Linked DNA regions of Homo sapiens: region 1 is linked to region 2. Evidence: fine-mapped expression QTL. A gene starts in region 2. The other region holds a variant in brackets. All regions are shown on one strand. Distances are between the middles of the regions.

What was found. PIP is the estimated chance that this variant, and not a neighbour inherited with it, causes the effect. A credible set is the group of variants that fine-mapping cannot tell apart.
Region 1: its variant is the best candidate, but not a certain one, in a credible set for the expression of MYEOV in lymphoblastoid cells (GEUVADIS, PIP 0.75).

Annotation. Positions count from the first base shown.
Region 1 is chr11:69,261,059-69,266,434 of GRCh38, reverse strand. No RefSeq gene overlaps it. Among named protein-coding and RNA genes, the nearest start is that of MYEOV, 30 kb to the left of the region's middle. The variant G/A (reference allele first, on the strand shown) is at 2,629.
Region 2 is chr11:69,291,133-69,296,466 of GRCh38, reverse strand. It overlaps MYEOV (myeloma overexpressed), which reads right to left and starts at 2,312. Exons shown (of 3, transcript NM_001293291.2): 1 at 1,891-2,312; 2 at 972-1,234; 3 at 1-875. The coding sequence starts at 1,112. The coding sequence ends at 75. RefSeq lists an enhancer at 3,190-3,741.

The sequences.
Region 1 (5,376 bases), 30 kb after region 2:
AGGCTCTGACATTGTCCTGGCTTGAAAAGTTCGTGCCCCAACCCTGCCCAGGCACACACACCCTGTTCACCTGCGATGGGCACCCCAGGCAGCACCTCCACGAGAAACAGAGGCCAGAGCCCCCTTTATCTCCTCCTCCCTAACAAGACTGCCCAGGCAACTGACCTTGAGGCCCACATGGAGGCAAACAGTCCTGGCAATTATCTTCCAGGGGCGTGGGCAATTAATTGAAAATCTGAGGCTGGCAAACTTCCATGCCCGCCTGGTGGAGAAGGCAGCCCCCTCCCTCCTCCCTCACATGAGGTCGGGAAGACGAGGGGATGGCCAGACTTGGGCTCCTGAGCAAGCAGCAGCTGTGTGGGCAGGACCTGAGGGGCTCAGTGCAAAGTGAAAATGCAGGACGCCTTGTTCAAAGTTATTAAAGAGCATCTAGATGGTGACGGCAGGGCCGGGCACAGTGGCTCATGCCTATAATCCCAGCACTTTGGGAGGTCAAGGCGAGTGGATCACCTGGGGTCAGGAGTTCAAGACCAGCCTGGTCAACATGGCAAAACCCTGTCTCTACTAAAAATACAAAACAAATTAGCCGGGCATGGTGGTGCACACCTGTAATCCCAGCTACCTGGGAGGCTGAGGCAGGAGAATCACTTGAACTCGGGAGGTGGAGGTTGCAGTGAGTCGAAATCGCACCACTGCACTCCAGCCTGGGCAACAGAGTGAGACTCTGTCTCAAAAAAAAAAAAAAAAGAAAAGAAAAGAAAGAAAGAAAGATAGATGGTGGTAGCAGAGCTTTGAACCCTGAGAGAGCCCCACTGACCCAGGGGCTGGTGCAGCTACACAGGTCACTTGCCCGAGAGGCTGGCCTGGCACTGGGCACTTAGCAAAATCCAGGATAAGATCCCTCATCATTTGCACGACCCATGAAACCCCACGTCACTGAGCCCCAGCTGTGGTCTAGCCTCTTGTCCCTCTTCCCTGCCCTCCCAGGTCCCCACCACCCACAGCTTGCCTGTCACTTCTTCAGAGGGTCCTTCCCTGGCTGCCCAGGGCTGATCCCTCCCTCTCTTCTCCATCCTTTCTAGAGGGTGACGTCACACGTGTGTGTGATTGTTCACTGCAGTGCTGGCCCCACTGTGGTGTGCTTGATAAACACATATTGGGGGTGAGAATGGGGAGCCCCAACTTTGTTACCTGCGGGACCCTTACTCTGTGTTCTGAGCTCCTCAGCTGAGGCTCCTGCAGGGCCTGGAGACCCTCGGCTGGTCACTGTCATTATATACCAGCCTGCCCCTCATCCCAGCCCTCAGTCGTGGCTGTGAGCTCTAGAACAGGGTCACGGGGCCTTGCTTTGGAGGCCCCAAGGCACCCAGTGCCGGGTTACATATAGTAGGCATACAGTAGGCACTCAGCAGTACTGAGAGTCCCTGCACTGCATTCTCTGGGCCTCAGAGCCATGGGGCCAGTGAGGGACATGGGCAGCAGAGCAAGAGACAGGGCACGTAAACATCCTGCACATCTGCCCCTGGCTTCTGGCTGTGTGCACCTACACTCTGTCTGTGAGCTCTTCCTCGTGAGACTGCAGGTTATGCTGGCATCCAGACCATTCCCACACAGCAGGGTCTCTCTGGCTGCCTGGTGTCTACAGATAGGGCACATTCCCTCCCAGCCACCCCAGCAAGGAAGACAGTGACCTTGCTCCTCCCACCCAAAGCAGATACACGCTGGAGGGGAGCAGCGGCCAGGGGAGGGTTGAAGGCCATGCTCTGGTGTAGCCGCTCCCTCCCCAGGGCCCAGGGCAGGCCAAATCTTGGGTCTTGGGTGGCATTCCCTGTAGATGCTTCCTTGTTCCCTCCCTCCTTACTGCCAACAACCCCTGCCTCCCTCAGCCAGGCCCAACCAGGGAAGCTAGTGATTCAGCACCCTTAGGAGCCTCCTAGTCACCTCCTTGATGCCAGGTGTGGGGCATTTGGGGCTCGGTTCTCTTCAGACCCTTCAGACCCTTCTGATCCTTCTGGTCCTTTGCAAAACACAGCCCCAGGGTTGAAGGGCAAAGGCGCCGCATCTGCCCTGTTATTGTTCCGTTCTTTCTACTCAGGAGGTGTGGGGAGGCCTCTGTCACAGGGTCTGGGGCCTCACATGGCCACACACGGCCTCAAAGAGGGCTGAGGACCCAGGGGGTCACAGAGCAGCCAAAAGTCCTGGGACACCTGCAAGGACGGAGCCTCACGTTCTGGCAAACCCCTCAGGCTTGTCCTGGTGCCCCACAGACTCCATTGCCAAAAGGGCCAGCATGAGATGGAATAAGGGCTACATCAGGGGCATATTCCATGACTGGGACACAGGGCAGGGGTTCTGCTGGCACTGAGGGAACCCACCCAGGAGATGACTTCTGAGCTGGGATTCAGAGCATGAGTGCAACATTTAGGGGAGGGCTGAGTACATGCTATGGCCCAGTGCAGGTGGGAGGGTGCAGTAGGGCAGGAGGAAACACAGAGGTGCAAAATGCCCTGGGCTTGGGAAGCAGGACAGCCTGCTCCGCACATGACAGAAATATCTTAGCTCCCAGACAAGAATTCAGAGTGATCTTGGAAAGCAGCCAGCCCAGTCTCTTCATGGTGGGGGCTGTGG[G/A]GACGGGTGTCGGGGGTGGGGGCAGTGACAGACTTGAGGTCACACAGCTGGTCAGGGAGGAAGCCAGGGCTTACCCAGGCCAGGAGTGCCCTGGTCTGGGCCCTGCCCTCAAGTTCGGGGCACCTAATGAATTTCTTCTGCTTCCTTGTAACTCCAGAAGAGCAACTGAGGTCTAGAGGATGACATCATCAGAGTCATATCAGCTACACGGAGACACAGCCCAGAGCAGGAAAAGGGTACTGGACTACTGCTTTCAGAACCTAGAGTGGGAAATGATTCTCCATCATGGCCCTGGATGTTGAGTTGTCATTGTCTGTTTACACATCTGTCTTCCCACCAGACTCTGAGCAGGATGTAGCAGGTGCTCAGTGAGTGTGGATGGATGGGTGAGTGGATGGATGGATGGATGGATGGATGGATGGATGGATGGATGGATGGATGGATAGATGGACAGATGAATGGACAGACAGATGGATGGAAGGATGGATGGATGGATGGATGGATGGATGGATGGGTGGGTGGATGGTTGGATGGATGGATGGATGGATGGATGGATGGATGGATGGATGGATGGATAGATGGACGGATGGATGGATGGATGGATGGATGGATGGATGGATGGACAGATGGATGGATGGACAGACACGGTGGGTGGATGGACAGATGGGTGGACAGATGAATGGATGGACAGATGGATGGACGGACGGATGGATGGATGGATGGATGCACGGATGGACAGACAGGTGGACAGACGAATGGACAGATAGATAGATGGAAGGATGGATGGGTGGAAGGATGGGTGGGTGGATGGATGGATGGATGGACAGATGAGTGGACAGATGAATGGATGGACAGATGGATGGATGGATGGACAGACAGAAGGATGGATGGGTGGATGGATGGATGGATGGATGGATGGACAGACGGATGAATGGGTGGATGGATGGATGGATGGAGGGATGGATTGATGGATGGATCAATGGATAGACAGAGGGATGGATGGATGGATGGATGGATGGATGGATCATCCATCTGCTAAACTGCCAAAGTGTTTTCCAATGTGGCTGTACCATTTTGCCTTCCCACCAACAGTGTACAAGGGTTCTGGTTTCTCCACATCCTCACCAATACTTGTTATTTACTTGTGTTGACAGTGAAGAGAGAGGTGTTCTTCTCACTCGCATCTCAGGCCAGGTGAGGGGGTCCTCAGAAGCATCTCTGAGGGTCTGCAGGAGATTTTAGAGTTTTGGAGGATGCAGAGCCTGGTGCTGACCCCTGCCTGCACTGCCTAAATGAGGGGTGGCCAGAGCTGCCCTCGGGGTGGCCATCTTCAGGCATGGAGGGGAAAGTGAGTCATGGTGGACAGCCATGAAAAGAAGCCATGAGTGGGTCATCTTGAAAGGACATTTCCTATGAGGGTGAGAGACCACCAGGAGCCACCTGAGGCCCTCCCTAGAGAGGAGCCCAGGATGGGAGCAGTCACAGGCCCTTAGCTGAAGGCACCTGGCCAGGGCCAGAGACTCATGCTAGGGGTTCCCAATGGGGAAAGGCCCAAAGCCAGACATCAAAGGCACACGCCAGAGGAGAAACTCCAAGCCTCATGGGGGAAGAAGGAAAAAGGAAGAATGCAGCAGAAACCACAGCCCAGGCCCTCCCCATGACAGCTGCCCACCCTAGCAGGAGCCGTGGAGTGGGGAAGAGGGTGTACATGGGATAAGAGACTGAAGCTCTGGCCGGGCGCTGTGGCTCATGCCTGTAATCCCAGCACTTTGGGAGGTTAAGGCAGGTGGATCACGAGGTCAGGAGTTCAAGACCAGACTGGCCAAGATGGTGAAACCCCATCTCTACTAAAAATACAAAAAATTAGCTGGGCATGGTGGCACGTGCCTGTAATCCCAGCTACTCCAGAGGCTGAGGCAGAGAATTGCTTAAACCTGGAGGGGCAGAGGTTGCAGTGAGCCGAGATCGTGCCACTGCACTCCAGCCTGGGCGACAGTGCGTGACTACGTCTCAAAAAAAAAAAAAAAAAAAAAAAAAGACTGAAGCTCTGACTTAGACTGGACTGGACTTTCCATTTACTGAGCATGAGACTGTTTGTTAATCCATGAAGGTGTTGAGGAGAGCCACGAATCTGCCCCACCAACCACGTGGGCAGGATAGAGGCCCAGCATTGAAGGCCTGGAAAAAAAAAGAAAAGTGATCTCATGGATTTCCACCCCGAAGATCAGAGGTAGAAATCTCCACCCTGAGATCATTGGAAAAATTGCCACTGCCCCGTCTTCTGGTGGGATTGGGGCCACCCAGTATCTAGAACACATTTGGTGTGAGGAGTGGACCATGATACAGAGTCAGGACCCATCCTGGAGGCCCAGCCCTCCAGGCACAGGCAGAAGCAGACCCGAAGATCCCATCCTCCCAGGTTCCAGGCTGCCCTCTCATTTAACATTGCAGCTGGGTCCCAGAGACCATGCTGGTGGCGAGATGTGAATGTGATCCCTGTGTTTGTGAATAATCCCTCAAGGTCAGCCAGAAACCAGAGAACAATCTCCTCCTTTGTAGGGGGTGCAGGAGATGGGGCAGGAGACTGGCCTGTAGACATAATCAGCAAAAGTGGAGGGGTCCAGGAATGCCAGCCGCATCCTCAAATACCCCTCATACCTCTTCAAGTTGCCCCAGCCAATGCTGTTGTCATTTGGTACTTTAAGTCTTAAAAGAGACACAGGAGTTCTAGACAGGCTACCAGTTTCT
Region 2 (5,334 bases):
GTAGCTACCTCATGGAGTCATTCTGAGGATTAAATGAGGCTGGGCATATAAACCACTTGGCACACAGGACGTCCTCAACAAGTGAGGATGATGATGAGGAGGAGGAGGAGGAGGTGGTGGAGGAGGAGAGGAGAAGCACCTGACACTGGGGGTGGGTGCATAGTGGGCCCCACCTGGCCAGTCCTCCTAACTCCCATGCGCCACCCCCCCAGGGCCTCAACAGTCACAACAGTCAGCCAGGACCCAGCCACCCGCAGAGGCAGGCCCCAGGTGGAGCAGTGAGGGGTGGGGTGCCGGTGGAGGGTCAGGCATGCTCTTCTTCCCCTTTCATAGTCAGGGCAGCTCGATTCTGCCAGGGTCATGCAGAGTGCCCCGGCACCGGCCAGAAGTCCTCGCCCAGGTGAGCGCAGAGCCACATCCATTCGCGCCCACATAATTTCCATGGAGAGCCCATGCCGCCCATGCACCTCCTCAGGGCACGAGCTAATGGCCTGCTCAACGCCCACTCTAAAGGCTTCTCCCAGGTGAGCAACGCCCACCACCCTTGCAGACTGACTCCCAGAATTCCTGTTCCCAGTGCCACACAGAGTGCCTTGTGGTGCATCTGTGACCCTCCTGGCCCGGGACACGTCCACGTCTTCTGCCTCCTGGCTGAGCCCCGCACCTGTCTGGGCACCCTTGTCTCCCTTGTTTCTCTCCCGGTCACCAGCTCCAGCAGCAAACCACAGAGACACAAATGCTCCTCTCACCGCAACACGCAGGGCCTGGGAGAGACAGAGGCGGCCCCGGGATCTGCCGGCTTTGGAGCCCTCCACGAAGTGTCCAGCCTGCCGGGTGAACATGAGCAACGAGTCCCTGTCCCCAAGGGGGACAGACTACAGACAAGAAAACCGATGAATAAATCAGACATCAGCAGGTGGCATTCACCCACCCAAGAGAAGAGGTTACTGGGGTCAGGGAAGTGTCGGCACCTGGTGGAGGTGGAAGGTCAGGAAGGACACACCACGGAGACAATGACACCAGGAGGGAGACTGTTCCAGGCAGAGGCAACAGCGAGTGCAGAGACCTATCGGGAGAGCTGGGGTGTATGTGACGCAGATTCTGAGGGCCATGAGCCGAGGGAAGGAGCCAGACGCTGTCCTAAGTGCCAGGGGAAGTTGTTAGAGGTGTTAAGCGTGGCATGACGTGGCTGGATTTAGGGTCTGAGATGAACTTTCCTGCTCCTGAATGGACTCTGAGGAGAAGGAAGATACTACCATCCGTAATCCACCCCGGGAAGGCACTGACCTCCTTGACCATGGGGAGGATGAGAGGCCGCCGCTCTGTGCCTGGGTCCCCATGGCCTCTAGGGTCCCTTCACGTTTTCACCTCATGATCCTGGAAGCTGGGACCTGCCCAAATCCACCGGGTGGCCCCAGCCTCCCCATCTCTGGGGCAGGGGGTGGGCAGCCTTCTCCTCCTGGTTTATAGCCACAGATGACTCCAGGCACAGTGGTCCTCAACCGCCTCTAGGGACCATGGGGACGGCTGCCCTCTGTGTGTGACGGTGGCTGGGCAGAAGCCAGCTGGGCTGTCGTGGGTAGGGCCTGGAGGCCTCTGGCTGTATGGTGGTCTAGCTTTGGCACCACCTTGGGGGGCTCCGGGTAGGAGGTGTCCACCAGAGGGGACCTGGGCAGCTCAGCAGAGGCTTGGTCACTCCCGAGCCGTCTGTGGGTCCCACTGGTCTGTACCCTCAACCCCACTGACCTGCACTGGTCATGCCCAGCTCTCACAGGATGATGGCCCCAGCCTTGTAATGAGTCACCTGCTGCCCTCCTGCCCCTCCAGCTGGTCCCCCACCCAGCAGCCACAGGGCTTTCCTTAAAACATAAGAAAGACCCTGCTTCTTACCTGCTCAGATCCCACCAAGAACCGGCCACCTCACTCCAGATAAACTCCAGACTCTTCACTGAGCCCAAAGGCAACGAGCAGAAGTGTCCAGAAATCACACAGAGCTCAGCAGGTGGTGAGGCACCTGGACCCGAGTCACCCAGCAGCTGAACAGGCCATCCCTGAGGCCATGCACGCCCCGGCCCTGCAGGTGTGACGGCCGAGGCTTCCACGACGGGGGGTGAGTGGGAGCTAATATGGCTGGTGAAAGCACTGGGTTCAGTGGGGATGGCATCTCCCGCCCTCTGTCCAAGGTGGGGAAAAAGTCAGCTTCAGGTGAGGGAGACCCTGGACGCCTGGCTTTGGGCTGATTCCCCACTCACTTGGCCTCTCCCAAGCATACTTTCCTGCTTTGTAGGGATGTGGGTTCGCGGGACAGTAACAGGAGAATCAAGGCAAGAACTCAGAGGGGGATAGCCAAGGTAGGCGGAGCTGCCTGGTGGGTGGGACTAACCCAGGTGGGTGGGGCTGCTTGTGAGTGGGGCTAGCCCAGGTGGGTGGGGCTGCCTGGTGGGCAGGGCTTTCTTCCCCGTCAACATTTCCCTCTCTCGGTTAAGGCCAGGGCAGAGCCCACACATGGGTGTGCCCAACCTTAAGGCCTGCCCTGGGTGAGTTAAGACTCCCCAGCTCACCTAGGTCCTACCTGAGGGGAACCTACACGGCCAACCTCCTCAAGGATCCTGAAGCCACCCAGAAGACAGTGGGGCTAGGGTGCCATTCATTCATTCATTTATTCATTCACCTATTCATTTATTTACTCGCTTCACCACCCTTTCCTGGGTAATATTAAGAATAACAGTGGGCCTAGGAATATAGAACATTCTTAGGGGTTTCTTGCAGGCCAGGCACCCTAAGAAAAAGTTATGTAACCCACGTGGCCTCGCTGTGAGGGGGACGACTGCTGTCCTCACTTAATAGATGAGGAGCTGAGCCATGGAGGCCTCACAGCTGGGCAGCTGGGGGTGGACCCCATAGACTGGAGGGGGATGGGCAGGGGCAAGGAGTTCTGCTGGCCCCAGGCCTCTTGTACACATCTTGGGAAGTACTAAAAATGAGTACTTGCTCAAGTCCCTCTCTTCATTGAGCACAGGGAGCTCTTGGCCCTTCCCTCCTCCTCCCTTTACCCTCACCGCCCAATTCCACACGGGTGTACTGAGCACTTGCTAAGGGCCAAGACCAGCACTAGGTGGAGCACACAGTAGGAACCCAAGGCAGCCCTCCCTGCCCAGCTCTCCAGGACACTGTCGTCAATGCCAGCGGGAAGCATAGAGAGGCCAGGGAAAGACGGGCAGTCAGGAGGAAGGAGCCAGCGGAGGGGAGAGAGGGCCGGCAGCTCAGTGCACCTGGACCGTGGTGGATGCTGGACTATGACCAGAGACAGGGCTGCAGCCCAGAGCTAGCCCCAGACCCACAGGGCCTCAGGGGGCTTCACAGGCTTTGTCAGGGGTTTGGACTTTCTCCCGAGGGCTGGGGACCCTGCAAGTTGCAGAAACTGGGCTATATTTGGCATTTTAGAAGCCTCCCCCAGCTGTAGTGGAGGGGAATTGGAGGGAGTGGGAGAGGAGGTTCCCATTCTCACTCAGGTGGGAGATGGTGGTGGGATGGAGGGTGACCCTGATTGATAGGACTCAGGGACAAATTAAAGGTGAGGGCCAGGGAGAGGGTTATCCAGACAGCTCCCAGGAAGATGGCAGTGGGATGGAGGGTGACCCTGATGGGACTCAGGGACAAATTAAAGGTGAGGGCCAGGGAGAGGGTTATCCAGACAGCTCCCAGGAAGATGGTGACACCAGTGAGGTGGGGAGATAGGATGGCATTTGGTTCCCACTGAGCTGGAGATGCCTGTACAAAGCTTCTAAGATACCCAAGGCAGAATCTGCAGCTCCTGCAAAGACAAGAGCTCTGCTCTGCCTCCAGGGAATCAGGGGAGGTCTCCCCAGTGCCCTACTGGGACCTCCAGAGACCCTATGCGAGCCTCCCCCAACCCAACCACCAGCCCATCAGCGCCACCTACCGGCTGCTCAGGGCAGGCACTCAGCAACTTGCTGAGGGCAGATCCTGATGTGTCCCCGTTTTACAGATGAGGAAACTGAGGCCAGGAGACAAGATGACGCCTGTTTGAGGTTACGTAGAGGTGGAGGTGGCATAAGACCTCAGTTCTTCCTGGCAGATCCTCTCCAAAGAGCCCCGTCTGAGAGCAGATGGAAGGAGGTGGTGTCAGGAGATACCTTATCTTACTTTTGTCTGCTGTCAGCATTCCAACAACCCTAGATTATTTTGGCACCCCGCAGTGTCACTCAGTCTCACCATAGCCTCACTCTAATTATCAAAGCTCATCTTTTGGGCTGATATCTGCTTCTGGGACTCCCAGTAGCCCACCTGGGTCCTGCTGGGGAGGACTGTAGAAATCTGACTGCCCCAGGTTGATTTTCTCCCTCTGTCTTCAACATTCAGATTGCCAGCCCACCTGTTAAATCATGATGAGTTGGTGATGGTGATGGTGATGGTGATGATAGTGATGATGGTGATAATGATGGCGTTGATGATGGTGATGATAATGGTGATGATGGTGGTGATGGTGATGGTGATGATGGTAAGGATGATAATGGTGATGATGATGGTGGTGATGATGGTGATGACGGTGATGGTGATGATGGTGGTGATAATGATGGTGATGACGGTGATGGTGATGAAAGTGGTGATGATGGTGGTGATGATGGTGAGGATGATAATGGTGATGATGGTGGTGGTGGTGATAGTGATGATGATGATGGTGAACATGGTGAGGATGATAATGGTGATGATGGTGGTGGTGATGATGGTGATGATGGTGGTTATGATGATGGTGATCATGATGGTGAAGATGATAATGATGATGATGGTGGTGGTAATGATGGTGATGATGGTGGTCTGATGATAATGTTGGTGATGATGGTGATGATGGTGGTGATGATGATGGTGATGGTGATGATGGTGGTGATAATGATGGTGATGGTGATGGTGATGATGGTGATGATGGTAATGATGATGATGGTGATGATGGTAATGGTGATGACGGTAATGATGATGATGCTGGTGATGATGATGATGATGGTGGTGATGATGATAATGGTGAGGATAACTTGTACTGAACATGCACCACATGTCAGTAGTTTTCCCACACTATTTCATTTAATCCTCATGACAACTTTATGGCTAGGACTACTGTTATCCCCATTTTACAGAGGAGGAAACTAAAGTGTACAGTGGCTCAGTCACATAGCAAGTTAGCAGTGGAACCTAGGGGCACCCAGGCAGTTGCACCAAGACCTGCTCCTAACATTACCCTATACTGCTTTTGGCTCAGCCTACAGAGCTGTCTTTGTGACCCCTTCTCTGACACTCCTCCTCTGAGCCAAAGGGCAG